Linked DNA regions of Homo sapiens: all the other regions are linked to region 1. Evidence: fine-mapped expression QTL. A gene starts in region 1. Each other region holds a variant in brackets. All regions are shown on one strand. Distances are from middle to middle. Region 1 holds the start of PRKX (protein kinase cAMP-dependent X-linked catalytic subunit). Region 2 overlaps PRKX (protein kinase cAMP-dependent X-linked catalytic subunit). Region 3 has its middle 18 kb from the start of ARSD-AS1. Region 4 has its middle 26 kb from the start of TRI-GAT1-1. Region 5 has its middle 31 kb from the start of PRKX. Region 6 overlaps PRKX (protein kinase cAMP-dependent X-linked catalytic subunit). Region 7 has its middle 24 kb from the start of PRKX.

Evidence for each region. PIP is the estimated chance that this variant, and not a neighbour inherited with it, causes the effect.
Region 2: its variant is fine-mapped to the expression of PRKX in whole blood (TOPMed, PIP 0.98).
Region 3: its variant is fine-mapped to the expression of PRKX in thyroid (GTEx, PIP 0.98).
Region 4: its variant is fine-mapped to the expression of PRKX in whole blood (TOPMed, PIP 0.91).
Region 5: its variant is fine-mapped to the expression of PRKX in blood mononuclear cells (TOPMed, PIP above 0.99). The same link has a PIP of 0.9 or more in T cells and whole blood.
Region 6: its variant is fine-mapped to the expression of PRKX in whole blood (TOPMed, PIP above 0.99). The same link has a PIP of 0.9 or more in monocytes.
Region 7: its variant is fine-mapped to the expression of PRKX in lung (TOPMed, PIP 0.99).

The regions. Positions count from the first base shown.
Region 1 is chrX:3,711,532-3,715,815 of GRCh38, reverse strand. It overlaps PRKX (protein kinase cAMP-dependent X-linked catalytic subunit), which reads left to right and starts at 2,167. Exons shown (of 9, transcript NM_005044.5): 1 at 2,167-2,728. The coding sequence starts at 2,563. RefSeq lists enhancers at 255-902, 3,234-3,543, 3,944-4,073 and silencers at 1,864-2,593, 2,614-2,743, 2,784-3,063.
Region 2 is chrX:3,632,239-3,636,522 of GRCh38, reverse strand. The region is part of intron 4 of PRKX (protein kinase cAMP-dependent X-linked catalytic subunit); the gene reads left to right. Among named protein-coding and RNA genes, the nearest start is that of PRKX-AS1, 25 kb to the left of the region's middle. The variant G/A (reference allele first, on the strand shown) is at 2,403.
Region 3 is chrX:2,885,023-2,889,306 of GRCh38, reverse strand. No RefSeq gene overlaps it. Among named protein-coding and RNA genes, the nearest start is that of ARSD-AS1, 18 kb to the left of the region's middle. The variant A/C (reference allele first, on the strand shown) is at 1,793.
Region 4 is chrX:3,810,420-3,814,703 of GRCh38, reverse strand. No RefSeq gene overlaps it. Among named protein-coding and RNA genes, the nearest start is that of TRI-GAT1-1, 26 kb to the left of the region's middle. RefSeq lists silencers at 1-145, 2,931-3,000. The variant A/G (reference allele first, on the strand shown) is at 2,506.
Region 5 is chrX:3,742,008-3,746,291 of GRCh38, reverse strand. No RefSeq gene overlaps it. Among named protein-coding and RNA genes, the nearest start is that of PRKX, 31 kb to the right of the region's middle. The variant G/A (reference allele first, on the strand shown) is at 2,269.
Region 6 is chrX:3,677,367-3,681,650 of GRCh38, reverse strand. All of the region lies in intron 1 of PRKX (protein kinase cAMP-dependent X-linked catalytic subunit), which reads left to right. Among named protein-coding and RNA genes, the nearest start is that of PRKX-AS1, 20 kb to the right of the region's middle. The variant A/G (reference allele first, on the strand shown) is at 2,440.
Region 7 is chrX:3,735,441-3,739,724 of GRCh38, reverse strand. No RefSeq gene overlaps it. Among named protein-coding and RNA genes, the nearest start is that of PRKX, 24 kb to the right of the region's middle. The variant T/G (reference allele first, on the strand shown) is at 2,206.

The DNA of each region.
Region 1 (4,284 bases):
CTTCCGAATGGCAGAGTTCAGCAATTCCTGACTCCACCGCAAATTAATGCCACTTCATTAAGGCGGTAATGACCCTTCCATGCCTAACTCACAGGGATTTTCCTTTTTTGTCTCTCAAGTAATAGGCTGTGGTTTCTCAAGGATTTTTATGATCCTTCCAGATGAAAGCTGTTTTGTCAAGCAAGGTGTTGTGAAACGTGCAGGGTCTATTTATAAGAAGAGGTAGCTATGCGGTCAAGTTCAGGGTGGGTTCGGTGGAATCAGACCAACCAGCAGCTCAAGCAGAGTTTAACGCTGCAAATCTGTGCCACGTTCTTCTTCCTGCGTGCAATTTGCAGGCAAGGACATCTGCTTAATTGGGTGTGAAACCCGGGCCTTGATTAAAAGGACTTTATGAGGCCGCAGCCTTGCATTTCCAAGGTCAGGCCCTAGTGGAGAGGGCGCGCGTTCCGCGGGGAGACACGAACTTTTCCTGAGTGCGCGTTCCTTGCTGGCCCTGAACCCCTCGGCCAGGCAGGGCTTGGCAGGGCCGTTTCCTGTCCTAACCAGGATCAAGGGATTGCGCGGCTTGCTGGTGAAGCTTGGCAGGGCCGTGACCTGTCCTAACCAGGCTCAGGGGATGGCAGGGGCCTGCTGGTGTCGCATATGTTTTGCATTCCAGCTCAGGATTTTGCAGAGCATAGGGAGCGGGTGTCACCCCCGGGGGGAAATGCCACCCACAAAATGCAGGTGGAGGCTGGGCGAGGCTGGCAGCCAGGGGCCAGAAATCCAAAGCCTGAGCCAGGTTCAGACTTCCTGACTCCCCCTCCCCGTTAGCTGTGGAAGGATGGCTCGGCCTGGTCCCCCTAAAAATGTGTCCGTTCTGACTTAGAGGCCGCTTTGGCTCTCGGAAAGCCCCCCTGACCTGCGGACTGAGGGACTGGAGACCCCCTCCAATCGCAGAATCGCTGAGATCCCTCAAAACAAAGGCGTTTGCAGTTTGACCCCTTGCTGCTCAAACTGTGGTCGGCGAACCGGCAGCCTGGGCCGCCCTGGTCGCGGGTCAGGGGCGCAGCGTCCAGGCCGTGCCAGGCCCGCAAGTTAAGCACTGTCTGCATTTCCCTGGGGAAAGGGGTGACCAAATATCTAGCTATATTTGCATTTCAAATCCACACGGATATGGGTTTTAAATATAAGTATGTCCAACTATTGCCTGAGCCACACTTAAGCCAGGAAAAAAAAATCTTTGGGGTTTCTGAAATTGAAATGCCTCTGCACAATTCTTTATAGGGTTGTCGCCGGGGTGTTTGAAACAGTGACCAATCAAGTTTCACGCACTACATTTGGTCGGGCGATCTCTCAAATCTGTCTTTCCCTAGTTTTTTAAAGGAATGTTTATTTGTAAAGAATTCTAGATCCACAGGAAGCTGCAAAGAAACGCACAGGGTCGAGCCCGCCCTTCCCCGCCCCTTCCAAGTAGAAATCTAGAATCACCAGAGTCCTACAGCAAAACCAGGACGCTGAACTCATCCCGAAGACCCGGCAGCCCCTCTTGGGGATCCGCCCTCATTCCAAATTCTCTCAGGTCCCAAACAAGCACCCGCAGGAGTACTGAACTTTTTGGGGGGAGGGCAGAGGGGATCTGTATGCAGATTGCCAGCTGAGCAATCCTATTTTCTATGACTTAAAGCCAATCAGAGGCTGGGCGTGGTGGCTTATACCTGTAGTCCCAGCACTTTGGGAGAACGAGGCAGGCGGTTCACTTGTGCTCAGGAGTTCCAGACCAGCCTGGCCAACATGGTGAAACCCTGTCTCTACTGAGAAAATACAAAAATTAGCCGGGCTAATCCGAGCCCCTCTCTTCACCAAACGCCAGTTTCACTTTTTAGTTTTGAACTTCACTTCTGCTGAGCTACGCCCTCCCTGTCCCCGGGCCCCCTCGCCTCCCCATCTTCCGGGCTTGGGTGCAGCGACGCGGGTGGCCCGCCAGTGCGTCCCCGAGGAGAAGTCAGCCTGGGTCCCACCCCAGGGGTGCCCCGGGCGCGGAGGGGGCGTGGGCACCTCCCCAGCGCCGCACGCCCGGGTCTCCGGCTCCTGGGCTGGGTCGGGGCGGGGGCGGAGCGCGCGCGAAGGCGACGCCCCCAGCCCCGCGGCCGGGTTAGGGCGGGGAGAGGCGCGGTCACGCCCAGGCGGCTTCCGCCCGCCCCAACAGCGCGCACGCGGCTACCGAGCTGGAGGAGGCGGCGGGCGCGAGACCCGGAATGCGCAGGGCCCCCGCCTCGCCCCCCCCAGCCCGGGCCGCGGCCCCCGCCTTCCCCGCAGTCGTCCCGCACTCGGTGCCCGCCCCCCGAGGCCGGCGGCTGCTCCCACTCGGGGCCGTTGCTGCTTGTGCCGTGAGCGCCGCCCAGCCATTGTCCCCGTCGCTCCGTCAGCCGCGCCGGACCGCGCACCAGGAGGCGAGAGCGCGCATGGGGAGCCTCTGTTGATGCCGCCGCCGCGCCGCCCTCCGAGGCTGCGTCCCGGGAAGCCCGGCTCCCCGAGCGCTCCGGCCTGGCCCGGTGCCCCGGACCTGAGTGCGTCCCCATGGAGGCGCCCGGGCTGGCCCAGGCGGCCGCGGCGGAGAGCGACTCCCGCAAGGTGGCGGAGGAGACCCCCGACGGGGCGCCCGCGCTCTGCCCCAGCCCTGAGGCGCTGTCGCCGGAGCCGCCTGTGTACAGCCTGCAGGACTTTGACACGCTGGCCACCGTGGGTGAGTGAGTGCGGGCGGGGACTCGGCCCACAGGGGCGCGCGGCGTGGCCGGGACGTTGTAGTAGGACAAAGGGCCCTGGGTGCCGACCTCCTGGGGAGGGCCCTGACCCGCTACTTCGGCTCGGAGTCCCCGTGCGGGGCTGCACCTGCGCCCCGGGTCTTCCCGGGTGGAGCGCACTCCCCAGCCCCCCAGCCCAGGCAAGTACCCCCGACCGGCCGGGTGCCTAACCTGAAATGCCGACGGCTCCTCTCGGAGACCACCCTCCACCCCCAGCACACACAGCACTCTGGGGCCTGGGCCGTCCGACGTCACAAAACCTCCTGCGGGTCACCTCGCCTGGGGGACCTCGTGCTCCCTCCCTGGCAGCGGCCCCAGGGACACTGGCGCGGGGTGCGAAGACCCCTGCAGGCCTCCCCTAGGCCAGCCTCCCTGTGTGCCCAGAGGCAGGGAATGTACAGATTTCTCCAGGGGCTGCAGGAGCAGCTGGGCTGTGGGGGACAGGTGTCCCGGGGCGCTGTGGGGACGAGGACGGCAGCGCTGGGGACGGATCCTAACATGTCCTGACACCGCCTGTGCTCTTCGTCTTGTGCCTCTGAAATGGGTAATTCTTGTATCGGACGCTTTATCCGTTTCCTTTGTCCTCTGTCTTTGAACTTAACCCCGAATGGGCAGCTTGACAGAGAGGTTTCGAGTTCTCGGTGCTCTTGCATCCGGACACGCGCTGCTTTATGGAGCAGCCCTGAGTGGGTCAGAATATCCCAACTGAACGTGGGCGCTGGATTTAAACAGTTGTCATCGGCCCGCCTGTGCCACTTAGGGACTCCGTATGGCTAAGTGGGGTGTTGGCTGTCAAGAAAATAAATGGGAGAGTAGAGGGGGCTGTCCTGGGTGTGTTGGTGAGGCGTCGGCTCTCAGGCCCTCTAACTCCTGTTTGTCCTCATTTTGGAAAGGAGGAAGCTGGGCTGGGAAGCCCAAGGGCTCGAGGCCATAGCTTATGACTTAGGAAGACCAGCGGGCATAGCCAGTGGGGCCTTTAGAACCGCTGAGGAAGAGGGGACTTAGCTTCCTTCAGTGACCTCTTTGCCACTTAGACCTTGAGGAAGGGCCCACGAGGAAAGCCTGAATTTGGAAGGACAGAGTGGGAGGAGGCCCTCTCTCTTTCTCCTCTCCCTCCCTCCTCCTCTTTATCTCATTCTCTCTCTCTTTTCTCTGTTTCTCTTCTCTCTCCCTCTTTCTGTCTCTGTTCAAGTCTCTCTGCATTTCTCCTCCTCTGTCTCTTGGTGTCTCTCTCCCTGTCCCCTTCCGGTCTTGGTTTTTCTGTCTCCCTCCCTCCTCTCTCTCTGCCTTCCCCCTTGTCTTGGTCCCCCCGGAAAGCTGTCCTGGTCTAATCTTAGAGCTGGGTGTGTTTTGCGCGGAAGAAGGGTGGGGCAGGAACCCTGACTGGCGCAGCCGCCACAGTAGGTGGAAATACAACTCGACAATGGAAAATTGATGAGGTCCAGCCGTTCCTTGGCACTCAGCACCAGCGTTTGTCATTCTTTGGGGCACCCACATG
Region 2 (4,284 bases), 79 kb after region 1:
CCCACAGCCCTCTGGGGCCTCCCCTGTTCTCCTGGGCCATGCCCTGTCCGACCAGCCCATCTGTTTTCTTTATACTGATTAGCAGCTCTGAAACCATCTAAATTTTGTATGTGTTGACTGCCTCTGAGAGCAATGCTCCCAAGCTGCTCTCCTCACCTCCTTGAACCCAGAAACTTCTGGTGGCTGGAGGGAGGGCACTGCTGCACATACAAGTGGAGCCGGCCTGCAGTCAGAGTCTTCCTGCTCCCTTCGCAGCCTGTGTCTGCACCTTTCCTATCGCAGCTCCATTTGCTGGATTCCCACTCTTAGCAGGATCAAGTGAGACTGTGCCTTGTCTGTGTTATTGCTTTAAGTGATTATCTCAATCTTCCACTAAGCACAGGGAAAACCATCTATTTGGTAAAATCTGCCATGTGATTAGGAAGGAGATCATATCATGATGCAGATTTTATTTTCATGGAATGAGACATGTTTAGGTCAGATGAAAATTGTGTGGCACATTCTGGAACAAAATCACTCATGCACTTTCCAAGGACCCAAGCTCAGCTCCGATTTCTTCCATCCTATTCTCTTTCCTCATCCATTTCTGTGGTTTTATTCTCCCAGAGAGTTTAACTCAAGAGTCAGGTAAAGGCTGGACGTGGTGGTTCATGCCTGTCATCCCAGCACTTTGGGAGGCTGAGACAGAAGAACTGCTTAAGCCCAAGAGTTCAAGACCAGCCTGGGCAACATAGTGGGACCCCATCTCTACAAAAAATAAAAATAAAACTAGCTGGGTGTGGTTGTATGTTCCTGTAGTCCCAGCTACTCAGGAGGCTGAGGTGGGAGGATTGCTTCAGCCCAGGAAGTCGAGGCTGCAGTGAGCTGAGATTGCACCAGTGCACATCAGCTTGGGTAACAGAGCAAGACACTGTCTCAGAAAAAGAAAAAAAAAAATCAGCTAAAGCATCAAGAACAAAACACAGGGACACACAAGACATACAGCAGAGTGCAGGGTAAGAGAAAGCCCCTGGGCCATCTTGTCTTAGTTGTGACAGCAGTGATTCTCAAAGTGGCATCCCAGAGGACTATGGGGTTCCCGAAGTGTGTTTCAGCAGATGAGTGAGATCATTTTTCCAATGACAGATCTGAATAGTGATGAATTTTCTTCATAGGTGTCAACTAAGACAATACAGCATAGCAGACAGGGTGCAGAAGATCCTAGAGAAGGTGGAATTTGGCTGCAGTGGAGCCTCTTCCACGGGGAGCATTAGGCATTGCGCAGTGGTTCTCAAACATGTTGGCCTCGGGAACCCTTCAACACACAGCTCAAAGTTATTAACAACCCACAGAACTTTCATTTCTGTGTGTTACAGCTGTCCGCGCTGACTACATTTGAAATTAAAGTAGAGACTGAAATATAAACCAACAGAATACATAAATAATATATATGAGAAGTTAAATAATCAGAGGAGAACATAAATAGCATTTTTAAATGAAAAAAATGTGTAACCACACTTTCTAGAATTAAAACCATTCAGGCTGGACATGGTGGCTCACGCCTGTAATCCTAGCACTTCAGGAGGCTGAGGTGGGAGGATCACTTGAGCCCAGGAGTTGGAGGCCAGCCTGGGCAACATAGTGAGACCCCATTTCTACAAAAAATAAAATGAAATAAATAAACCAATTAGCTGAGCATGATGGTACACGCCCAGGGTCCCAGTACTTTGGGAGGCTGAGGTGGGAGGATCACTGAGGCTGGGAGGTCAACGCTGCGGTGAGCTGTGGTCTCGTCACTACACTCCAGCCTGGGTGACAGAGAGACCCTGTCTCTAAAAAGAGAGAAAACATTTGTGAGGAGGTTGGCTGTATTTTCTGGGTTTTGTGAATCTCTTTAGTGTCCAGCTTTCACAAGGGCTGCTGGCCTCTCCTCCCTCTGTCTGCAGCCTGTCTGCTGTGCTGCGTGGCACGTTGTTTAGTTGAGGCATAGGAGAAAATTCATCACTATTCTGAACTGGAGTCAGAAAAACGATCTCAGCCATCCCTAAACTGAGGTCGGGAAGCCACCCTGGGACTCCACTTTGAGGGCCACTGCTGTGATGCCCAAGTCAACGTGCCCGGGGCTATATTTTCACCCTCTACTCTGCCCCAACCCTCACACACCCCAGTGCCTGCTCCTTCCGCTTTAACTGGCCCTCAAGTTCCCCTTTCTCATCTCCCACCTCAGCCTCCCTGATTCATCTGAGGAGCACAGATTTTATATTTATTTATTAATTATTATTATTTTTTTTCTTTAGAGGGACCCCTGCTCTGTCACCCAGGCTGGAGTGTAGTGGCGCGATCTCGGCTCACTGCAACCTCTGTCTCCTGGGTTCAAGCAATTCTCCTGCCTCAGCCTGCCGAGTAGCTGGGGTTACAGGTGC[G/A]TGCCACCGTGCCTGGCTAATTTTTGTATTTTTAGTAGAGATGGGGTTTCGCCATGTTGGCCAGCCTGCTCTCAAACTCCTGACCTCGAGTGATTAACCTGCCTCAGCCTCACAAAGTGCTGAGATTACAGGTGTGAGCCACCACGCCTGGCCTAAATTTTAGTTTTTAATCTGAAGGTATCGGGACAAGGATTTTTGAGGAAGAAGTCAAGGTGGGATGAAATTCTAGTGAAATTCTAGTGACGGCTTTCTTCTTTTCTCTAAAAACCTCTGCCTTCCTTTTCTTGAATGCATTTCCAAAGCACCTGTCTTCCAAGGCCAGCCCCGGTCCTCAGAACTGGAGCAGGTAGTGTGTCAGCTGATAGTTTAGGAGGGTGTTTTTCCAGCTGAGTAGGAGGGAGAACATCAGCTCACAGCGCCCAGGGTATCTCTGCCTGCACCATCCACTTTACTGGAAGATGTAAATAGGCGGAATGGTTACATTCAAATTTTACTGGCAAATGATAGAGCTAGTGGCACAATTGGTGTAAATTTTTTTCATTTTTCTTTTTTTGTTTTTGCAGACAGTTTTGCTCTGTTGCCCAGTCAGGAGTGCAGTGGTGCAGTCACAGCTCACTGCAGCCTGGACCTCCTGGGCTCAAGCAAACCCCCACCTCCGCCTCTTGAGTAGCTGGGATGACAGGTACACGTCACTGTACCTGGCTAATTTTTTAAAATTTTTTTGTAGAGATAGGGTCTTGCTATGTTACCCAGGCTGATTTCAAATTCCTAGGCTCAAGTGATCCACCTGCCTCGGCCTCCCAAAGTGCTGGGATGACAGCCGTGAGCCACTGCATGAGCGTTTTTTTTGTTTTTTTTTTTTTTCTTTTGAGACAGGGTCTTGTTCTGTGTCCAGATTGGAATGCAGTGGTGCAGTCATAGCTTACTGAAGCCTCGACCTCCTGGGCTCAAGCGATCCTCCTGCCTCAGCCTCCTGGGACTACAGAGGCTGTAGCTGGGGACCGCAGAGGCTGTAGCTGGGAACACAGGCACACACCAGCACGTCCAGATAATTTTTAAATTTTTTGTAGAGACGAGGTCTCACTGTGTTGTCCAGGCTGGTCTTGAACTCCTGGGCTCAAGCAGTCCTCCCGCGTTGGCCTCCCCAAATGCTGGGATGACAGGCATGAGCCACTGTGCCTAGCCTGGGCATGAATTTTTCAGGCGAAAATCTGGAGCTTGCATTCATGCTGATTAGCAGATTGTCCTTGCAAGTGTAGCTGTCACCACAGATCAATTTAACTTGCTTAATAATGCCAAATGCCATATAATGAGAATTTATTCTCCACTTGGTAAGAATTGGAAGCAGTCTGTATGTTTAGAGACAGAAATTTGAGGGTTTCAGAGGGCACTGCCCAGGCGTCCGGGGGAGTGCTGTTTCTCAGACACACACACACACTGTCTCTGCTTTTTCTTTCAGGCAAGATCATCAGTTAGTGCTCACTTATTATTTATCTTTTTCCGCTTATTAATACCTTTCCCATGATCTTATGTAATGTCTACTGTCCAAGAGCACTTCGTTTAATATTCTCCATAAATGTTTTTAGGTATGTATGGCACATTTCCTCCTGGAGTTTAATGCTCCATTCCTGTATTTGTGCATTATTCACACAGCTGAGTCGCCACCCAAACCCAGAGAGAAACAGGAATACAACTCCCCCAACTACTGTTACAGAGAACGCTGCGGGCAGGTGAGGGAGGACGGGCTCGGGAGGTTGTTAACGTCTGAGGCGGCAGGGTTGGCGCAGATCGCATGAGTGTCTGTACTCAGAGCTCTGCTTCCCAGCCTGGCCTGGGTGGTTTTTCAGTACGTTGTGGTGGCTCGTAACTCCAGGACCAGCGG
Region 3 (4,284 bases), 830 kb after region 1:
GGGTAAGAAAGAGGCCAGCACGTAAACTCCCAGGATCAAGGTTAGACTCCCTCGCTCTCGCTCTCTTTGACCTTCAGGCATGCACTTGCATCTCTTCCAGGAGTACCTTCCTTTCCTCCTGTTCTAAGGCTTTTTAAAATAAACTTCCACTCCTGCTTTGAAACTTGCCTTGGTCTCTTTTTCTGCCTTACGCCCTCAGTCAAATTCTTTCTTCCAAGGAGGCAAGTATTGAAATTGCCGCAGACCCCTACAGATTCGCCACTGGTAACTCAGGGTAACTCGGATCTCCCCACTGCTATCAGGCACAGAGTTTCAGTTTTGCAAGATGAAAAAGTTTTGGAGACCCATGCACAGCAATGTGATTAGACTTAACTCTACTGAACTCTTAACTCTACTCCCCCCCTTTTTTAAATTTTGGTATTTTTTTTGTAGAGACGAGGTTTCATCATGTTGCACAGGCTCATCTCCATCTCCTGAGCTCAAGAGATCCACTCACCGTGGCCTCCCAAAGTGCTGAGATTACAGGCATGAGCCACCGCAGCTGGCCTGAACTGTACTCTTGAAAATGGTTAAGATAATAAATTTAATGTTTTGTGTTTGCACTACAATAAAACATAGAGAGACCCCAGTTTATGTTGCTTCAACTCTTGCCTCCTTTTCCTATATTTTTCTCTTCCGTTTTCTCCTCTCCTCCCTTTTTGTTACCCCCACTTTCCCCTGAACCTTGACATATTGCAAAGCCTTGCAAAATAAACTGTTCTGAGAGTTGCTGAAAAGGGATTGCACCCATAATACCATGAAAGAGGTATTGAAACCACAGCAACGACAGTCTCCAATGGACACGATGCCAGGTTTTGCAACAGCTGAAGATGAAGAAAAGTGTAATTTGTTTTTTGGTTTTTGTTTTTTTTTTTGAAACAGAGTCTTGCTCTGTTGCGCAGGCTGGAGTGCAGTGACACGATCTCGGCTTACTGCAACCTCCGCCTCCAAGGTTCAAGCGATTCTCCTGCCTCAGCCTCCTAAATAGCTGGGATTACAGGAGCACACCACCACGCCTGGCTAGGTTTCATATTTTTAGTAGAGATGGGGTTTTGCCATGTTGTCAGGTTGGTCTCGAACTCCTGACCTGAAGTGATCCACCCGCCTCGGCCCTTCAAAGTGCTGGGATTACCAGCGAGAACCACTGCGCCTGGCCAGAAAAGTGAAATTTGGGCCAGTCCTCAAAAACATGTACCCCTCTCTCCTCATCTTACAAAACTCAGATCCTGCTGTGCCACAGTGAATCAATTATCTGTGCACAGGGGCCGTCTGGTGAGGATCTGCTGAATAAAAGCCCTTAGCTGTATTCAAGTCATTTCTTTTCCTTGACCACCTGTTCAAGCAGAATTAATGAACAGGCGTCTACCATGTTTACTAATATTTCTAAGTTTTTTTTTTTTTGAGACAGGGTCTTGCTCTGTTGCGTAGGCTGGCTAAATTTGTAAACGTCATACACAGTCATAAACATTTTTTATCTTAATGGTAATTTTTTCTTCTTCTTCTTTTTTTGAGACATAGTCTCACTATATCACCCAAGCTGGAGTGCAGTGGCGTGATCTTGGCTCACTGCAGCCTCCACCTCCTGGGCTCAAGCAATATAATTTTTAAAACCCAAGTTATTGGCAGTATCTCTAAAGATCTCAATAAGGCCAGGGACGATGGCTCACACCTGTAATCCCAGCACTTTGGGAGGTAGAGGTGGGCAGATCGCTTGAGTCCAGGAGTTCGAGACCAGCCTGGGCAACATGGCGAA[A/C]TCTGTCTCTACTGAAAAAAAAAAAAAAAAATTACCTGCGCATGGTGGTGCAAGTCTGTCGTCCCAGGTACTAGGGGGACTGAGGCAAGAGGATGACTTGAGCCTGGGAGGTCAAGACTGCTGTGAGCCCTGACGGTGCCGCTGCACTCCAGCCTAAGCAACACGGTAAGACCCTGTCTCAAAAACAAGATTTCAATCGGATGTTGACAATGAGAGCAGCAGCTCATGCTTTCATGCTTAATTGTTCCCACAGACTGTGCTAAGAGCTTTATGTTTATTGTCTCGTTTTATCCTCAGAAAATTCCCATGAGCATGTGGTATTGTAATCCCTCTTTTATAGATAAGGAGAGAAGATGTGGGGCTTAGCGTTCATTTGTTACAAAGATGTTTTTAAACTACTGGCTGCGTTTCCCTGAGGAGGTGTGAAGTCAATTTAGAACATAAAAATTGGCTTGTTCTTAAAAATAAGACCTTGGAGAAATGCCTGGCCCCAGGTGTGAGGGGAGAAAATCTATGATGGTTCTGGAGAATCTCATTTTGCCAGGAAGCAAGGAAGTGATCAAAGACTAATGGGGGCCAGGTGCGGTGGCTCACACCTGGAATCCCAGCACTCTGGGAGGCCAAGGCAGGCAGATCACTTGAGGCCAGGAGTTGGAGACCAGCCTGACCAACATGGCGAAACCCCGTCTCTACTAAAAACACAAAAATTAGCCAGGCGTGGTGGCACGCGCCTATAATCCCAGCTACTCGGGAGGCTGAGGCAGGAGAATCACTTGAACCCGGGAGGTGGAGGTTGCAGTGAGTTGAGATCGTGCCACTGCACTCCAGCCTGGGTGACAGAGCGAGACTCTGTCTCAAACAAAAATAAATAAAAATTTAAAAAGACTAATGGGATTAGTTCATAGACTTAAGAATCCATCTAAAGTGAGGAGAGTCCCACTGGTAAATCTGGTACAATTTGAGCCAGACATGGTGGCTCTTGCCTGTAGTCCCAGCCACCTGGGAGGCTGAGATGGGAGGATCAGTTGAACCCAGGAGGTTGAGACAGCAGTGAGCTATATGATCATGCCACTGCACTCCAGCCTGGGCAACAGAGTAAGACCCTGTGTCGTTTAAAAAAAAAAAAAAAAAGGAACAGTTTAAACATTAAAAAAATAATAAATTGGACTGTTTTACACGTTGAACAATCAAAACATAGTAGTGATAGTCAAGAGGAGTGTGCTAGGGAGGGAAAGAGAAACAGAAAAGCTCTTTTGTGCAGCTGAGTGTTGGGCCATGAATGCTGCAATAATGACAGACTCACAGAGCATCAGCATTTAGCAACTATGCAATGGAATCCAGACAAGCATCCTCAAGGCATGCTACAATCCCGTGTAAAGTATATTCTTGCACAGTACATGTCACATACTAGGTATAGCTGGATTTGCACGAATGTGCTTCCAACAGATATTGTCTGTGCCAATAAAAACTTCATTTTGTTTCTTAGGATGATGGATAGAGCAGGGATAGAAGACATCAAGTTTGTAAACCTATGCAACTCATTTGATCTATTAAAAAAAATGGGGGCCAGGCACAGTGGTTCATGCCTGTAATCCTCAGTACTTTGGGAGGCCAAAGCAGGAGGAATGCTTGAGGCCAGGAGTTGGAGACCAGCCTGGGCCACATAGTGAGACTCCTATGAGACCCTGCCTCTACAAAGTTTAAAAAAATTAGCTGGGTGTGGTGGCACATGCCTGTAATCCCAGTTACTTGAGAGGCTGAGGTGGGAGGATCACCTGAGCCCTGGAGTTGGAGGCTGCAGGAAGCGGTGATCGGGCCACTGCACTCCAGCTTGGACAAGAGTGAGACTCCGTGTCAAAAAAATAAAAATAAAAAATAATAAAATAATTAAAATAGATGATTTAATTATTTTATTTTTCTTTCTTTTTTTTTTTTTTTTTGAGACAGAGTCTCACTCTGTTGTCTAGGCTGGAGTGCAGTGGTGTGATCTCAGCTCACTGCAACCTCCACCTCCTGGGTTCAAGTGATTCTCCTGCCTCAGCCTCCTGAGTAGCTGGGATTACAGGCATGCACAACCATGCCTGACAAATTTTTGTATTCTTGGTAGAGACGGGGTTTCACCATGTTGGCCAGGCTGGTCTTGAACTCCTGACCTCAGGCGATCTGCCCGCCTTGGCCTCCCAAAGTACCAGGTACAGGTGTGAGTCACTGTAATCGGCCAAAGATACATAAATAAATAATTTTTAAAATGGTACTGTACACTAAAGAGCAGAGGCCTATGAAACCAGAAAGAATTGCTCTGCTTTTCCTAATTCAAGGGTGGTGGTCAGAAAGAAACCCCTTTCTGCTTCAAACTACAGTTCCACCCCAAAACGCGTTAACACTAGGACCTGTTTCGTGCTTCCAAGCATCAGCCAAAGGTTTTGGCAGGATTCGACCAAGTGGCTTTGAGGAACAAAAATACTATAACTTATTCCTGTGGATCTGTAGGC
Region 4 (4,284 bases), 99 kb before region 1:
CTCTTGGCCGCGCTGTCCTGGTGCGGCGGTGAGGGGAGGGGACCGGGGCCTCGGGGCGGGTGGCGGCCGTAGCGCGAGAGCCCTGTGCCTTGCGCTCAGAGGCTGAGCTGCGTGAGGGAGGCCAAGCCCCCGCGAGCGGCAGCCCCTGCCTTGCTAGTTCCCCAACACGCGAAAAAGGTAGATGAGAACTGGTGCGGGGATAGGTTTGGGTGGGGTTTACTTGGCACCACCCAATTTCTAAATCGGTCATATTTTCTGAGTAGTTCTACCAACAAAGGTCAAGCTGGAGCCAAGTGCTGTAATCCCAGCACTTTGGGAGGCCCAGGCGAGAGGATACATTGAGGCCAAGAGTTCGAGACCAGCCTGGGCAACATAGCAAGACTGTCTCTACAAAGTTTTTGATTTTTTTTTTCTTTTTTTTTTTTTTTGAGACGGAGTCTCCCTCTATCACCCAGGCTGGAGTGCAGTGGCACAATCTCGGCTCACTGCAACCTCTGCCTCCCGGGTTCAAGCGATTCTCCTGCCTCAGCCTCCCGAGTACCTGGGACTACAGGCGCCCTCTACCACGCCTGGTTAATTTTTGTATATATAGCAGAGACGGGGTTTCACCATGTTGGCCAGGCTGGTCTTTAACTCCTGACCTCAGTGATCTGCCTGCCTCGGCCTCCCAAAGTTCTGGGATTACAGGCATGAGCCACCGCACCCAGCCGCAAAAAGTTTTAAAATTACCTGGGCATGGTGGTGCGTGCTGGTAGACCCGACTACTTGGGAGACTGAGACGGGAGGATTGCTTGAGGCCAGGAATTTGAGACCAGCCTGGGCAACATAAGGAGACTCTGTATCTAGAAAACATATATATATTAGCTAGGTGTAGTGGTGTACGCCTGTGGTCCCAGCCACTCAGGAGGCTGAGGTAGGAGGATCGCTTGAGCCCAGGAGGTCCAGGATGCAGTGAGCTATGATCGCACCACTGCACTCTTTGCTGGGCCAGAGCGAGACCCTGTCTTCAAGAAAATAAAAGGATACAGCCACACACAGAGGGATGACCATGTGAGGACACAGGGAGGATCGCTTCAGCCTGGGAAGTGGAGGCTGCAGTGAGCTATGATCACGCCACTGCACTTCCCAGGCTCAAGCGATCCTCCCGCCTCAGCCCCCCGAGTAGGTGGGGCCACAGGTTTGTGCCACCATTCCGGGCTAATTATTTGTAGAAATGAAGACTTCCTATGGTGCTCAGGCTGGTCTTAAACTCCTGAGCTCCCGTGATCCTCCTGCCTTGGCCTCCCAAAGTGCTGGTACTATAGGCATGAGCAACTATGCCTGGACCAATTCTTAACTGGTGACTTGACTTGTTTATTAGTTAATCTGTCTCACTCAGCTTCCTTCAAATGCTGAGCCTCCGTCCTCTTGCTAAGCTCTTTTAAGAACGTTGTGTACCATGTCAACCTGTTCTAAATATTTGAGGAGAGAAAGTTCTAGAATTCACGTCCCCACCAACTTTCTTTTTTTCTTTAAAAAAAAAATTTTAAGAGACATGGTCTTGCTCTGTTGCCTGGGCTGGAGTGTGGTGGTGCAATCATAGCTCACTGTAGCCTTGACCTCCTGGGCTCAGGTGATCCTCCTACCTCAGTCTCCCAAGTAGCTGGGACCACAAGCATGCATAACCACACCCAGCCAATTTTTGTTTGTTTACTTTTTGTAGCAGAGAGGTCTCGATCTCCTGGCTTCACATGATCCTCCCGCCTCAGCCTCCCAAAGCACTAGTATTACAGGCATGAGCCACCGTGTGTGGCCACCACTGACTTTCTGAACCCCAAGTGTATTAGCCACCATAACAAACACCTTTTGTCTGATACATTCTGTGGATCATATTCCTTTTTTATATATAATTTTACCTTTTATTTTAGATTTGAGTGGTACAGGTACAGGTTTGTTTCATGGGTATATCATGTGACACTGAGGTTTGGAATGCAGATGATCCCATCACCCAGGTACTGAGCATAGCACCCCACAGGTAGTGTTTCAGCCCTGGCCCCTCCATCTCTCCACCCTCTAGTATTCCCTAGTATCTACTGTTCCCAACTTTGTGTGCATGTATAGATTATGTTTCTTAGAGTTCTCTAAATAACGGGGCAGGGAAGGTAGTGTGAATGATGTAAAGGTGTGCCAAATTGGTTCTGCAAAATTAACCTTTTTTGAATAAAATATTCAATTTTCTGAAGCGAGCAGGCTACTTTCTCAAGCAAAATTTCGTTTGAATCCTCCACCCCCAGCCTGCAGAGAGAGAGGGAGGGAGGGAGACCTCTTAAGAGTTTTATTTGTTCTCTTGCAGTCTTATGACTTACTTCTTAATGAAAACCCTTATTGTTTTCTAAGAGAAAAAAAAAGAGAATGAATGCAATGTTCGAAATGGGATTATGTAGAATTTTTAGGAGCATAAAGAGAAATTGAAGAATTATGAAAACAAAGGCCAGAAAAGCAAACAGTGTTCTTCCTCTACGTAGC[A/G]GCCAGATGGCGTTTTAGGCAAATACACCGCAAACTGCACAGCCAGGTCCCCATCTCAAAGGGCTTTCCACGGAGCAAAAGCAGTTTCGATCGTATTGTCATCACCACCATCAACTTTTTTTTTCCACTCACATGATGTATGCCAATATCATTATTCTCGTTATTTGTATAACCATCATCATCATCAATGTCTCGTGAATTTTTGCGTGTTATTTTTAACATAGCATGTAAACAGCACCTCCCCACAAAAAAAACTAGCTCAGGATAAACATCTCTAAGAGTATTTCATAGGAGCTGATAGTTTGACCAACAAAAAAATGTTTTCTTTTCCCAAAATAAAGTTCTGTGGTTTGTCTCAGGGAAAGTTTTTTGTTTGTTTATTTGTTGGATTTTTGGTTTGGTTTGGTTTTGTCTCATTTGTGGGTTTGGTGGTTGGTGGTTGAGTTTGTTTCTGGCTTAAAGGGCACCCTTAATGAAGAAGTGTTTATGTTTTCAGATATGTAGGCTTTAGTAAACTAGCTCACTCTGAGAAATCTAAAGTTTCAATTGCTCTGTGAACACCACTGAAAGAATCCACCTCCCTTCTCAAACCACATTCTCAAGGGCAGACTTGGGGATGCTAGAACTCTCCTCCCCTCTCCCCTCCCCCTCTCGCCTCCCCTCCTCCCCTCCCGAGGCTCTGCTGCCCAACCTCCGCCTCCCAGGTTCAAGCCATTCTCCCTGCCTCAGCGTCCTCAGTAGCTGGGATTACAGGCGCCCACCACAATGCCCAGCTAATTTTTGTATTTTTAGTAGAGATGCAGTTTTGCCATGTTGGCCAGGCTGGTCTCGAACTCCTGACCTTAGGTGATCCACCCACCTTGGCCTCCCAAAGTGCTGGGATTATAGGCGTGAGCCACTGTGCCCAGCCTAGAACCATTTTCAACAACAAAAGAGTCAACACATTCGGCCTCCCAAAGTGCTGGGATCATAGGCGTGAGCCCCTGTGCCCAGCCTAGAACCATTTTCAACAACAGAAGACTCAACACATTCAGCCTCCCAGAGTGCTGGGATTATAGGCGTGAGCCACTGTGCCCAGCCTAGAACCATTTTCAACAACAAAAGACTCAACACATTCATGCTTCCATGCAACATGGCAAGTCCACTTCGAGATGGTGCCTTTATTTACCTTTGATTATTCTTCACCATACACCCATCTTACTTTGTGGAGTCTTCACAATAATGAACCACCCAAGACTCATATGGCCAGAACTGAAACCTGAGACTGTCAACGAGAACAAAGTGTCCCGATACTTATTTCTGCTTGGACTGTTATTCAAGATATTCAATATATTCAATAAATATTCAGTATTCAACAAAATATTCAATGCTGTTCAAAATACTCAATAACAGTTACAGGAACTGTCCAAGGAGAAGGACCCTGGTCTCAATGGCAAGATAATGTCCTGGGTCAGGCATTGCCAGCGTGAACCATGAGATTGGGAGTCCCAGTCTGGGGTGTGGCATCCAGAGAGCTTAGGTCTGGGACAGAGGCTGTTTGACCTACCACTGCAGAGGTGTGGCCATATTTTAAGCCCAAGAATGTCCCAAGAAATATTGTAAAGCCAAGAATTGTGTACATACCGGCTGATCAGCCTTGTTTCTGCTCAAAGCCATCTTATGAGTGTTTGGTAGTAGAATCCTCCATTCAAACAATCTAACCCAAAACAAATGGAGACATTGAATGATTCCAAGTCAACAACTGGCTCTCGATTTCAGGGGAAAAAATGGCCATATTTC
Region 5 (4,284 bases), 30 kb before region 1:
TTTCGATGTAGCATGTTTAAGCAGTAGGAGAGATACCTGGACCTCTAGATGCTAATTAACATTGGCATTGATGAGACACGTCTGCCTACTTAATGAACACGTTCTGATCGCTCCTGTTTTGAGGCAGTATGCTGAGAGTCAGAAATAAAAAGGCTGAGGGAAACATTATATTCTCCTTTCCAGATGATATAGTCTAATGGGAAATGCAGGTTTATGAACAAATAACCAGGACTTACTGTTAGACATAGTACATAGCACATAGCAAATTTAACAAAATAGTTTATCTTTGCTGTGTGTTTGTGTGTGTGTGTGTGTGTGTGTGTGCACGCGCGCATGGGTGTCTGTCTCTCTTTTTCCCCCTCAGCAGACAAAAGACGAGGATGACCTTTAGAAGGCTTGGAGGCAGATGGATGCTGCGGTGTGAATGTGTGTGACCCCCAAAATTCCTATGTTGAAATGCTAACCCCCAAAGTCATGAGGTTAGGAGGTGGGACCTTTGGGAGGTGCTGATGTCATGAGGGTGGGGCCTCATGAATGGGATCAGTGCCCTTAGAAAAGGGACCCCAGAAAGCTCCCTCACCCTTTCCACCATGTGAGGACACAGTGAGAAGGTGCCATCTATGAACCAGGAAGCCCTCACCAGACACTGAATCTGCCACACCTTGCTCCTGGACCTCCAGCCTCCAGAACCATGAGCAATAAACATCTGTTGTCTACAAGCCTCCCAGCCCAAATGGACTAGGACTCTAAGCTAGCAGTAACTGTCATGGCAGGCAGGACGGAGATGGAGGCAATGAACTCATGGCAATACACAGGACAACCCAACAAGAAGTCCCAGAAATCTTAACCATCTCAGGAATGGGAGACAGCAGGTGGCTCTCAAGGTGCAGACACAGGCGGGGCTGGAGACAGGAGCTTTGCACAGCAGTGCTTGTCAGAAGAATTCTCCTCCTACTCCTTGCAGCCAGATGAACACATCTCGACAACTTGGACAAACTTACTTGTAATTTTAACCAGTGATGAATAAGCAAAGATCTAGATTCATGGACGCCGGAGAGAGCTGAGAGTAAAGGTGAGATAATGTGCCAGAAAAAATAAGATTAAGAAAAAGTCTGACACTCCCAAATATGTACCCCAAAGAAATAAAAGCAGTGAGATGCAAAACAGTACATACGCACTCATGTTCATAGCAGGGACTGAGTAGCACACTACAGTGTTCACTACACCAGGGATGCTCTCTCTCTACATATATGTTTTTGTTTTTTTTTGAGACAGGGTCTCACTCTGTTGCTCAGGCTGAAATATAGTAGCACGATCACAGGTCACCGCAGCGTCAACCCCCCAGGTTCAAGCAATCCTCCTACCACTCACTCCCAAATAGCTGAGACTACAGGTGTGCTGCACCGTACCTGGCTATTTTTTGTATGTTTTTTAGAGACAAGGTTTCACTATGTTACCCAGGCTGGTCTCAAACGTCTGAGCTCAAACAATCTGCCCACCTTGGTCCCTCAAAGTGCTGGGATTACAGGCATGAGCCACCGCACCCAGCCCATGTTCTATCTTTTATTTATTTATTTATTTATTTGAGACTGAGTCTCACTCTATGGCCCCAGCTGGAGTGCACTGGCATGATCTCAGCACATGGCAACCTCTGCCTCCTGGGTTCAAGCGATTCTCATGCCTCAGCCTCCCGAGTAGCTGGGATTACAGGCGTACACCACCACACCTGGTTAACTTTTGTATTTTTGGTAGAGATGGGGTTTCACCATGTTGGCCAGGATGGTCTCGAACTCCTGACCTCAAGTGATCCACCCGCCCCAGCCTCCCAAAGTGCTGGGATTACAGGCGTGAGCCACTGTGCCCAGCCTATTTATTTATTTACCTTTTATTTTAGGTTTGGGTGTACATGGAAAGGTTTGTTAATCAGTAAACATGTGTCACAGGGGTTTGCTGTACAGATTATTTCATCACCCAGGTACTAAGCCCAGCACCCAATGGTGATCTTTTCTCTCCTCTCCCTCCTCCCACCCGCCCCGCTCAAGTAGACCCCAGCGTCTGTTGTTTCTTTCTTTGTGTTCATGAGTTCTTGTCATTTAGCTCCCAGCTCTATATTTTTCACCAACGGAACCAGAAAGCTTTTCTGAGTAATTAATTGCATGATGACCTCAGCAATATCTAAGAAAAATGATTCTGGAAGCTGTGGTGGGGGGTGGGGTTGACGCTTTAAAGAGAAAGCTACAGGAAGGGTATGGCAAGTCTGTGGTCATG[G/A]GCTGAAGTAGTCCTGGGCAGGAGATGAATGACAGAGATAGACAGGAAAGTCTCCACCATGATGGTGCTGATAAAAGCAAAGTCAAGAGGATGTGGTGACCGATTCTGCATTGTAAAAAACAAGAGGAAGATAAAGATGACGTCCAAATTAGTGCCTGAGAGGACTAAACAGAATATGTACGTAAGAGATATATATATATATATATATATATATATATATAGATAGATAGAGAGAGAGAGAGAGAGAGAGAGAAAGTGTGAAAGAGAGAACGAAGACGATTAGATTGGGGGGTGGTGTAGAAATGAATTCACTTTTTATTACTTTTACTCTATAAAATGCATTTTAGACTCTGAAATTTTACAAGGAAATAGTAAGAATTAAGGAAGTCTTTAAAGTGCCACTTGAAAATCATGTTATATTGCAAGTACTACACTGGCTTTAATATTCAAGACTCTCATTTCTTTTTTTTTTTTTTTTTTTTTTGAGACAGAGTCTCACTCTGTCGCCCAGGCTGGAATGCAGTGGCCCAATCTCAGCTCACTGCAACCCCTGCCTCCCAGGTTCAAGCAATTCTCCTGCCTCAGGCTCTACCTCAGATTACAGGCATGCGCCACCACGCCTGGCTAATTTTTGTATTTTTAGTAGAGATGGGGTTTCACCATATTGGTCAGGCTGGTAAGACTCTCATTTTTTTTTTTTTTTTTTTTTGAGATGCGGTCTCACCCTGTAGCACAGGCTGGAGTGCAGTGGCTGGATCATGGGTCACTGCAGCCTTTAGCCCCCTGCTCAAGAGATCTTCCCACCTCCATCTCCCGAGTAGCTGGGACCACAGGCACATGCCACCATGCCCAGCTCGTTTTTGTATTTTTTTGTAGAAATCGGGTCTCACTATGTTGCCCAGGCTGGTCTCAAACTCCCGGGCTCGAGCAGTCATCTCACCTTAGCCTCCTAAATTTCTGGGATTATAGACATCAGCCACCGTGTCCAGCTAAGACTCTCATTTCTTACCAAGACCTGATAGTATGTCTTATTTGGGTTATTAGTTGAATTTTAGGTTATTTCATTAAGTACATGAAAATAATTAAAATGGATGACCAGGTGCAGTGGCTCACATCTGTAATCTCAGCACTTTGGGAGGCTGAAGTGGGTACATTGCTTGAGCCTAGGAGTTCAAGATCAGCCTGGGCAATATAGCAAGACCCCATTTCTACAAAAATATTTTTTAAATAGCCAGGTGTGGTGGTGCATGCCTGTAGTCCCAGCTACTCAGGAGGCTGAAGTGGGAGGACCATCTGTGCCCAGGAGACAGAGGCTGCATTGAGCCGTGATGGCACCACCGCACTCCAGCCTGGGTGACAGAGTGAGACCCTGTCTCAAAAATAAATAAAATAAATGGACTCATAAAATAAGTTGTTTTCATTCTTAAAAGGACAAGATATTTTAAAATAGCTTCACATGACATGAAGTCCACTTGTCTTCTTGAGTAGAGAAAGTTAACACCTTTGAGGGATGTCCACTGGTATCTAGGATGTGTTGCGTCACAAAACAGGGTGGGAAAATGTAAACAAAAACAAAAACAAAAAAACAAGCTGGTTCTCAACAGTCCTACCACTGACTGTAATTTTGAGGTTATTTTCTTCATGGATATCTTTGTTCCTGGTCTGTTCCAGTTCTGAAATTCTGATTGACTTCTTGACGCAATCACATGACATCAAAATTGCTGAAAAAGTCCCATCACTACAGTGTGAGTAAATCAGCTGGTAGAATTATTTTCTTTTCCTTTCACTCATGGGTGAGTATATCGTATTTTGTACAGTTCAAGAATAATAGAACGAACACCTACATAAATGCAATTTAAATCAAAACATGCATCCCATACCTCAAAAGGGCCTTGTGTGCCTCTCTCAACCCAGAATTTATGTTAACCACTTATGTTATTCATCAATTTGTTTTATATATAGTTTAGTGATGTGTCTCATCTCTACACTGTATATTATGTTGTCTGTGTGTGTTTT
Region 6 (4,284 bases), 34 kb after region 1:
TTGAGACAAAATCTCCCTCTGTTGCCCAGGCTGCAGTGCAGTGGTGCAATCTCAGCTCTCTGCAACCTCCTGCTCCCTGGTTCAAGACATTCTCATGCCTTTGGAGTAGCTGGGATTACAGGTACCCGCCACCATGCCTGGCTAATTTTTTTGTATTTTTAGTAGAGGCTGGGGTCTCACTGTGTTGTCCAGGCTGATCTCAAACTCCTGGGCTCAAGCGATCCTCCCATGTTGGCCTCCCAAAGCACTGGGATTACAGGTGTGAGCTACTGTGCCCGGCCTATTTCTTTTCTAAATAGAGGCAGGGTCTCACTATGTTGCCCTGGCTGGTCTCAACCTCCTGGGCTCAAGCAATCCTCCTGCTTCGGCCTCTTGAGCAGTTGGGACTCCAGGTGCACACAACCATGCCTGGCTAATTTTTGTATTTTTTCGTAGAGATAGGGATCTCACCATGTTGCCCAGGCTGGTCGGGAATTCCTGGGCTCAAGCAGTCCTCTGACCTCAGCCTTCCAGTGTGCTGGGATTACAGGTGTGCACCACTGTGCCTGGCCTTATTTATTTTTTATTTATTTATTTTTGGAGACAGGGTTTCATTCTGTTGCCCAGACTGCAGTGCGGTGGCAACCATAGCTCACTGCAGCCTCCACCTCCTGGGCTCAAGTGATCCTCCCACTTCAGCCTCCCCAGTAGCTGGGACTGCAGGAGTGCATCATGACTCCTGGCTAATTTCTTTTAATAGGGATGAGATCTCTATGTTTTTGTAGACAAGGGGCTCTCGCTGTGTTGCCCAAGCTGGTCGAGAACTCCTGGCCTGAAGCCATCCTCTTGCCTTGGCCTCCCAAAGTGCTGGGATTACAGTTGCGAGCTACGGTGCCTGGCTGTAGATTCCCCCCAGCCCCCAAGCCGCCAGTTGTGAGTCTTCACTAACAAGGGAACCTTTCAGCATTTTCCATGGTCATGGTGATTCACCTAATATTTTAGTTCTGCTGAGTTGTCTAAACATTCGGGATAAAGGCTGTCATTTTTTGGTGACCGTAATGTGTATGTGTATGTTTACAGTTACACATGCCTGTATTTGGGTGGAGCTCAGAAGATGCCCATGGCATTTTTCTGGGAAAGTTGAAGTTTATGATGTTTGCTCTTTATTGGGAGTGTGGAGGTCGTCTTTCTCCTTCTTCCCATCCCTCCAGACAGAAAGCTGGGATGTGGCCAGGTGCAGTGGCTCATGCCTGTACTCCTAGCACTTTGGGAGGCCGAGGTGGGTGGATCACTTGAGGTCAGGAGTTTGAGACCAGCCTGGCCAACATGGTGAAACCCTGTCACTACTAAAAATACAAAAATTAGCCAGGCGGGGTGGCGGGCACCGGTAATCCCAGCTACTTTGGAGGCTGAGGCAGGAGAATCGCTTGAACCCAGGAGGCAGAGGTTGCAGTGAACTGAGATTGCGCCATTGCACTCCAGCCTGGGCGACAGAGTGAGACTCTGTAACAACAACAACAACAACAACAACAACAACAACAGGCCAGGATGTGTTTGTGTGTGAGTTGGACCCAAGGGCTTGGGAAGGATGGATAGGGTAGGGGAGGAGGGATAGATGGATGAGGGAATGCAGAGAGAGTGGCCACACTGTCAGAGGCTTTCAAAAAGCAGGAGGTTCTCCAGTGGGAGAGAGGAGACCTGAGTCCACCCCGCATTAATGTTTACAGATCAGAATTGCACACATAGAATGGCTCATAAATCTGATCCACCTTCCTCGTCTGGCACTTGGCTGGAGAAACAACTCTTTGAATGTTGGAGGAAAAGCCCACTGTATTGCACCTGCTATAAAAAGGGCGTGCCCACCTTAAAAGTAGCCACACCTTCCCGAGATTGCCATGGTCCTTCTAAGTCTCTGAAATGTATAGATCAGGTATATTTGGGAATTTGGGGATTTTTCTAAATTTGGGATGAGAATGGGTGCATGTCCTTTTTAATTATACAACACCCTCAGCAGAGTCTGGGCTGGATGTTGTTATCAAGACAAGAATATTTCTGTAGTGAAATAGGTAGATATTCACCCCAAGGAGGATCAAGCCTGAACAGTCTCACGTTAGGCAAGGTCCAGTTTTGCGGCCAGGTGTGTTGATGAAGACACTTTGAGTATTCAGAGCCTTTAGCTTTAGCCACTGTGGGTAAGGGATTGTAGAACCCATACTTAAGCTTTCCCCTTAAAGCTTTGACTTTAATCTCCACATTGCAGCCCTGCAAAAGAACAGAATCGTGTCCTTTGCAGCAAAGTGGATGCAGCTGGAGGCTGCTATCCTAAACAAATTCATGCAAAAAATCGAGAGCCAGATATTGCATGTTCTCACTTATAAGTGGGATCTAAACACTGAGTACTTCATGGACACAAAGATGGGAACAATAAACACTGGGGATTCCAAAAAGAGGAAGGGAGGG[A/G]GTGGGGAAAAGACTGAAAAACTTCCTATTAGAAACTGTTTACTACTTGGGCAACGGGATCATTAGAAGCCGAAACCTCAGCATCATGCAATATACCCATGTAATGAACCTGCACATGGACCCCCTGAATCTAAAATTAAAAGAAAAGACATAAACTCCACATCTGATTTCCCTCGTGCATAACACTACTACTTAGCTTGGAGAGAGATGGAGGGGATCTCTAGGGTGGGGAATGGACCACTTACCTTCAAGATCTCCCTTATCAGGAAGGAAAGAGCTGACCTGCCTAGAAACACTTGAAAACACTCTTTTTTTATGTCTTATTGGGCAAAGCTGGGTCAGATGGCCACCCTTAGCTGCAGAGAAGGCTACAAATAGACATTTTCTCCTCAAGTGGGATAATGATAACTGGGGAATGTGTACTGGAGAGCCTTCCAACACCAAGCGGGGAAGATCTACCAGCACCATTAAATGTTGCCTTTGTCTTCTGTGCACTTAAGCTGATAAACCTTAAACATTACAGCATGCCACTTCTGTCTGCTTTGAGTAAGGTTGTTTACCGACATACTTCTGCAGTCTGATTGTGGCGTTGGCGGGACTGACAATATCTCCCAGGGTAGCGCAAAGATCCGCTGCAGTGCATAAGTAACGTGTTTTGAGTTTTGTATGTTTATAATGCACACAGCTCAGAGAAAGCTTTAAAGAAGTCACAGAAGTGTAAAAAATCTGTTGAGTCATAGCTGTTGTTCTTAAAGTAGGCATGGAGAATTCTCTCTGTTGAGGGTCAAATACAAGTACTAAGACAGAATGTTATGCAGTAAACACAGCCAAGTAATGAATGGGTTCCTTGGGGTGGGTGATAGAGAAAGATAAATAAGGAGGAAGGAACCAGATAGAGGAAGAAAAGTCAAGGACCATATTCATTGCATTATTAGAATTTTAGGGTGTGGCAAGAATTTAATGTTTCCTAATAATATGCAAGTTCTGTTGGAAAGAAGAGCAACAGGAGACTAAAAGGTTAAAAGGTTACTCTGTTGCCCATTTCATAGGTCCAATGGCAGGATAAGCTTGGGTTGGATGCCAGTGTTCCTGATTCCTAATTGTGTTTTATCCAATTGAAACATCAGTGGCCATAGTCAAACACCTAAACTGTATCAGTTCACAGTCCTCAAAGCCCTTCTCCCACTTCCTGTCTTTGACCTGATTCCACCTAATTTTGTCCACACCATGTTGTACTGTAATAAAACCTATTTTATTTCCAAATTAACTAAGAGAATATACTTTAAAAATGTGTTACTATTTCATTATTTGTTTACTTTTTTTAAAGAAATATTTAACACCTGTCAGCTATTGACATTGTTTCCTTCTTACACTTTTTCTTTATCTTGTAGTTCACTTTCTATTTCTGCCATAATAAAATATTCAGTATCGGAAACTTCACTTAAAAAGCAAAGGTTACTTCTCCTCCTCCCTTCCCAGTCTGCCCTATAAGCTAGTAAATTCATCATTCATTAGCTTAGATATTTTACAACATGGGGATTTTAGTTTACAGCAAATACTCTAAGTAAAATTGGTAGCTTAAGTACAACTTTTTCTTTTCACGTTACCATGTGCAATCAATGGCATTCCAGACTCTTGGAAGGAAATCCATTGTATGGTTGTGGTCTTTTTTTTTCCTTCTCAAACCAGTCAAAAATACCCAGTCACAATTTAAAAAATTATCCGCCCTTGGTGGTGCACGCCTGTAGTCCCAACTATTTGGGCTGAGGTGGGAGGGTCACTTGAGCCTGGCAGGTCAAGGCTGCAGTGAGCTATTGATTGTGCCATTGCACTTCAGCCTGGGCA
Region 7 (4,284 bases), 24 kb before region 1:
CGTGGACACAAGTTTTCAATTCTTTTGGGTAACCATTGAGAGTGATTGCTGGATCATATGCCAGGACATATTTAGTTTTGTAAGAAACAGCCAAACTGTCTTCCAAAGTGACTGTACCATTTTGCATTCCCACCAGCCATGAATGGTCATTCCTGTTGCTCCACGACCTCATCAGCTTTTGGTGATGTCAGTGTTCTGGCTTTTGGCCATTCTCACAGATGTGTATTGGTATCTCATTGTTGTTTTAATTTGCATTTCCCCACTTTGCTTGTTTCCAATCTCTATATAATCATAATGACATTGTATGGAGTTTTTTTCAAGCTATTTCCTTCACCATTGTTTCAAGAATTACACCACTGAAGTAGGTAGCTGTGTTTCTGTTGTTCTTTGCTGCATATTGTTCCATGATCTGAATATCCCACATTTTTTTAAACATCATGAACATTTGGATTGTTTCTCATTGATATGGTTTGGCTGTGTCTCCACTCAAATCTCATCTTGAATTGTAGCTCCCATAATTCCCACATGTTGTGGGAGGGACCCGATGGGAGATAATTGAATCATGGAGGCAGTTTCCCCCATACCGTTCTCATCGTAATGAATAAGTCTCAAGAGATCTCATGGTTTTATAAGGAAAAAGCCTTTCACTTGGCTCTCATTCTCTCTTGCTTGCCACCATATATGACGTGCCTTTTGCCTTCTGCCAAGATTGTGAGGCCTCCCCAACCATGTGGAACTGTGAGTCCATTAAACCTCTTTTTCTTTATAAATTACCCAGTCTTAGGCATGTCTTTATCTGCAATGTGGAAATGGACTAATACACCCATCTTGTAATACTATAAGCAATGACATCATAAGCAATTTAATTTCATGTATATTTCCTATTACACATTTGTACAAGATTTTCTATGGTAAGAAACCAGAGTGGAACTGCTGTGTCATTGGCACATCCTCATCTTTACTAAGTAATTCTACATGGTTTTTCAAAGCAGCAGTAATATTTTCCACATCTACCAGCAGAGTATACATATTCCAGTGCATCTCTGTCTGCTCAGCTTTGGTACTGGGAGATAGCAACTGTGGTTTTAACTTTCCTTCCCTGACTACTACTGAAGCTGAGCAGCTTTCATTTGTTTATTTGTAATTTAGATTTCCTCTTCTGAATGTTCTTCCTTGACTTGTTCTTGATTTTTTTTTTTTTTTTTGAGACAGGTCTCACTCTCTCACCCAGGCTAGAGTGCAGTGGCATGATCATAGCTCACTGTAGCCTCGACCTCCCAAGTTCAAGCAATCCTCCCACCTCAGCCTTTCAAGTAGCTGGGACTTCAGGTATAAGCCACCACACCCAGCTAATTTTTGTATTTTTTGTAGAGATGGGGCCTCACTATGTTGCCCAGGTTGGTCTCAAACCCCTAGGCTCAAGCAACCCACCCACCTCAGCCTCCCAAAGTGCTGGGATTACAAGCGTGAGCCACCACACCCAACTTGTTCTTGACTTTAAGGAGACCACTTTTAATATCCCACTCTTTAGTATGACATACATTTTTCCGTAGAAAGCTTTTATCAGATTAAGGAAGTTTGTATTTATTCCTAGTTTGTTAAATCCTGAATGGGTGTTCAGTTTTATCACAGCTACTTTCTGTATCAATTGATACAAGAAATATTTTGTTTCCATTTTGTTTTCTTTTCTCCTTTAATCTGTAAATATTTAAAGTACAATCATAGATTGTCTATTGTTGAAACTTGCCTAACATTTGTACCTCACAAAGAGTGAGATTGGTCTATAATTTCTTTTCCCATGCTTTCTTTGTTGAGTTTGCTGAGTTTGAATATCAAAATATTCTTGGCCTCAAAATAGTTTGCATATGTTGCTTCTTTGTGTTTTGTCTGCTGGAGCTTAAATAATACTTGAATTTACTGCTGCCTGATAATACCAGTTAGGTCTAGCATTTTCTTAGTGAGAAGCTTTTTAACCACTCATTCAATGTATTAAATTTCTACAATACCATTTGGATATTCTATATCTACTTGAGTCAGTTTGGTTAAATATATTGTTCTATGAATGTGTCCATTGTGTACGAAGTTTTTAAACACATTGCGATAGTTATTCCTAATATCATCTTATTTTTTTTATAAACTCTGCTACATCTGGAGTTATATTTCTTTTTTCTTCATAATGTTATTCATTGGCATATTCTGTTTTTT[T/G]TGTGTGTATGATGGAGCTTTGCTCTTGTTGCCCAGGCTAGAGTGCAATGGCGTGACCTCTGCTCACTGCAACCTCCACCTCCTGGGTTCAAGTGATTCTCCTGCCTCAGCCTCCTGAGAAGCTGGGATTAGGTGCCTGCCACCACGCCGGGCTAATTTTTTTCTATTTTTAGTAGAGACAGGGTTTCACCATTTTGGCCAGACTGGTCTTTTTATCTGCAATCTTACCAGATTTTATTCATTCTACTCTTTTTATTGTAGTTTATTTTTAACTTGATTATAAATTAAAATTTGATTTAAAGTAAAATGAAGTTTATTAAAATTAAATGTTAATAAAAAATAAAAAGCTAATTGTATTTAAAATACATAAAATAAAAAAACTAGTTAATGTACTACAAATAAGTAATTAAATATAATTCAACTAATTTTATTTAAATGAACATTTAAAAGAAGCAATTAAATGCTTAAATGCTTTTTAACACTTAAAAGAGGCGATTCTACTAAAATTAATTTCACTAAAATTAAAAAGATTTCTAACTTCAGCTACTTCCATCTTCTCTCATTTTCTTCTCTAATTTGTGAATTCTACTGGTTTTCACTTATTTCCTTCTACTGTTCTGGGTAATTCTGCTGTTCCTTTTCTAACTTCTTGAGTGGGACGCTTAGCATACTTTTCTGTGCCATTTCTTCTCCTTTAGGATAAGCGTGTTACTGAAGTTTTCAAGTACCTCTAGTGACGCATCCGCTGCATCCCGCGGCTTCTGAGCTGCGCATTTGAGTTCCAAGGAGTCATGAAGGCAGCTTGAAAACGTTTTCTTGGGAAACCGAAACTGTCTGTGTCAATGCAATGGGCGCTGGGCGTAAAAGAGAAAACTTCTCCATGTGGGAAGGCTACTCTGTTCTCCTCCATTCTCTGCAGTGAATTTGGAAAGAACTGACATTTTGTCTACTTTTAGGAAAGTATCCATGCACTGGAGAGCTGGAAGCAAGAGCGAGATGCCCCCAGATCCTAAACAGGGAATCCAGCCATTTGCTGAAGACAAAAACAGGCACGTGGAAATGAGTCCCTTTGACCCTGTACTCAAAGTATCTCCAACCACATGGGTAAAAGACCAAACATGGCACAAACAGTCCCATGTGGGAAGACCGCCCCAAGGGGCAGAAGTCACCAGGCCTGCATTTTTGCACGTGGTTTAGACTATTCTCTGACTGTTCCCCCTGCATCCCAGGCTCTTCTGCGCAGAGGAGGGGGTGCATGGCCTGTGCTGGCTTGGAGGAGGAGGGGGCTGGGGCAGAGAGCCCTGGGGAAGGGCTATAGGCAGAGAACATCAACTCAAAGGTGGTAGGTACCCAGGTCTGCTCTCCCCGAGGGAGAGAAGTGGGAGGGTCTTGCCAGCCTGAGAACACACCGGCTTTGTCTTTTTGGCAGAACAAAGACTTCTTTCGGAGAAGACTGACTGAGTGGCCTAATTCCTTCTCATCTGTGTGTGCAGCTGGCCCTCAATATCCTCAGGGAGTTGGTTCTCGGACTTCCACTGATATCAAAATCCAAGGATGCTCAAGCCCCTTGTAGCAAACGATGCAGTATCTGCATATCACCCAGGCATATCCTCCCATACACTTTAAGCCATCTCTACTTATAATACCTAATACAGTGTAATTGTTTTGTCAATTGTTGAGACACAGTATCATTTTTCTGTTTGTTTATTTAGAGACAGGGTCTCACTGTCACCCAGGCTGGAGTGCAGTGACACCATCATAGCTCACTGCAGCCTCCAACTCGTGGACTCAAATGATCCTCCCCACTCAGCCTCCTGAGTAGCTGGGACTACAGCCACACATCACTACTTGTAGCTAATTTTTTTAAATTTAATTTTTGTACAGACAGGGTCTCACTATGTTCTCATGCCTCAGCTTCCCAAGCACCTGGGATTGCAGGTGTGTGCCACCATGCCTGGCTAATTTTTTTTGTGCGTGTATATTTTTAGTAGAGATGGGGTTTTGCTATGTTGGCCAGGCTGGCCTCGAACTCATAACCTCAAGTGATCTGCCCACCCCGGCCTCCCAAAGAGCTGGGAT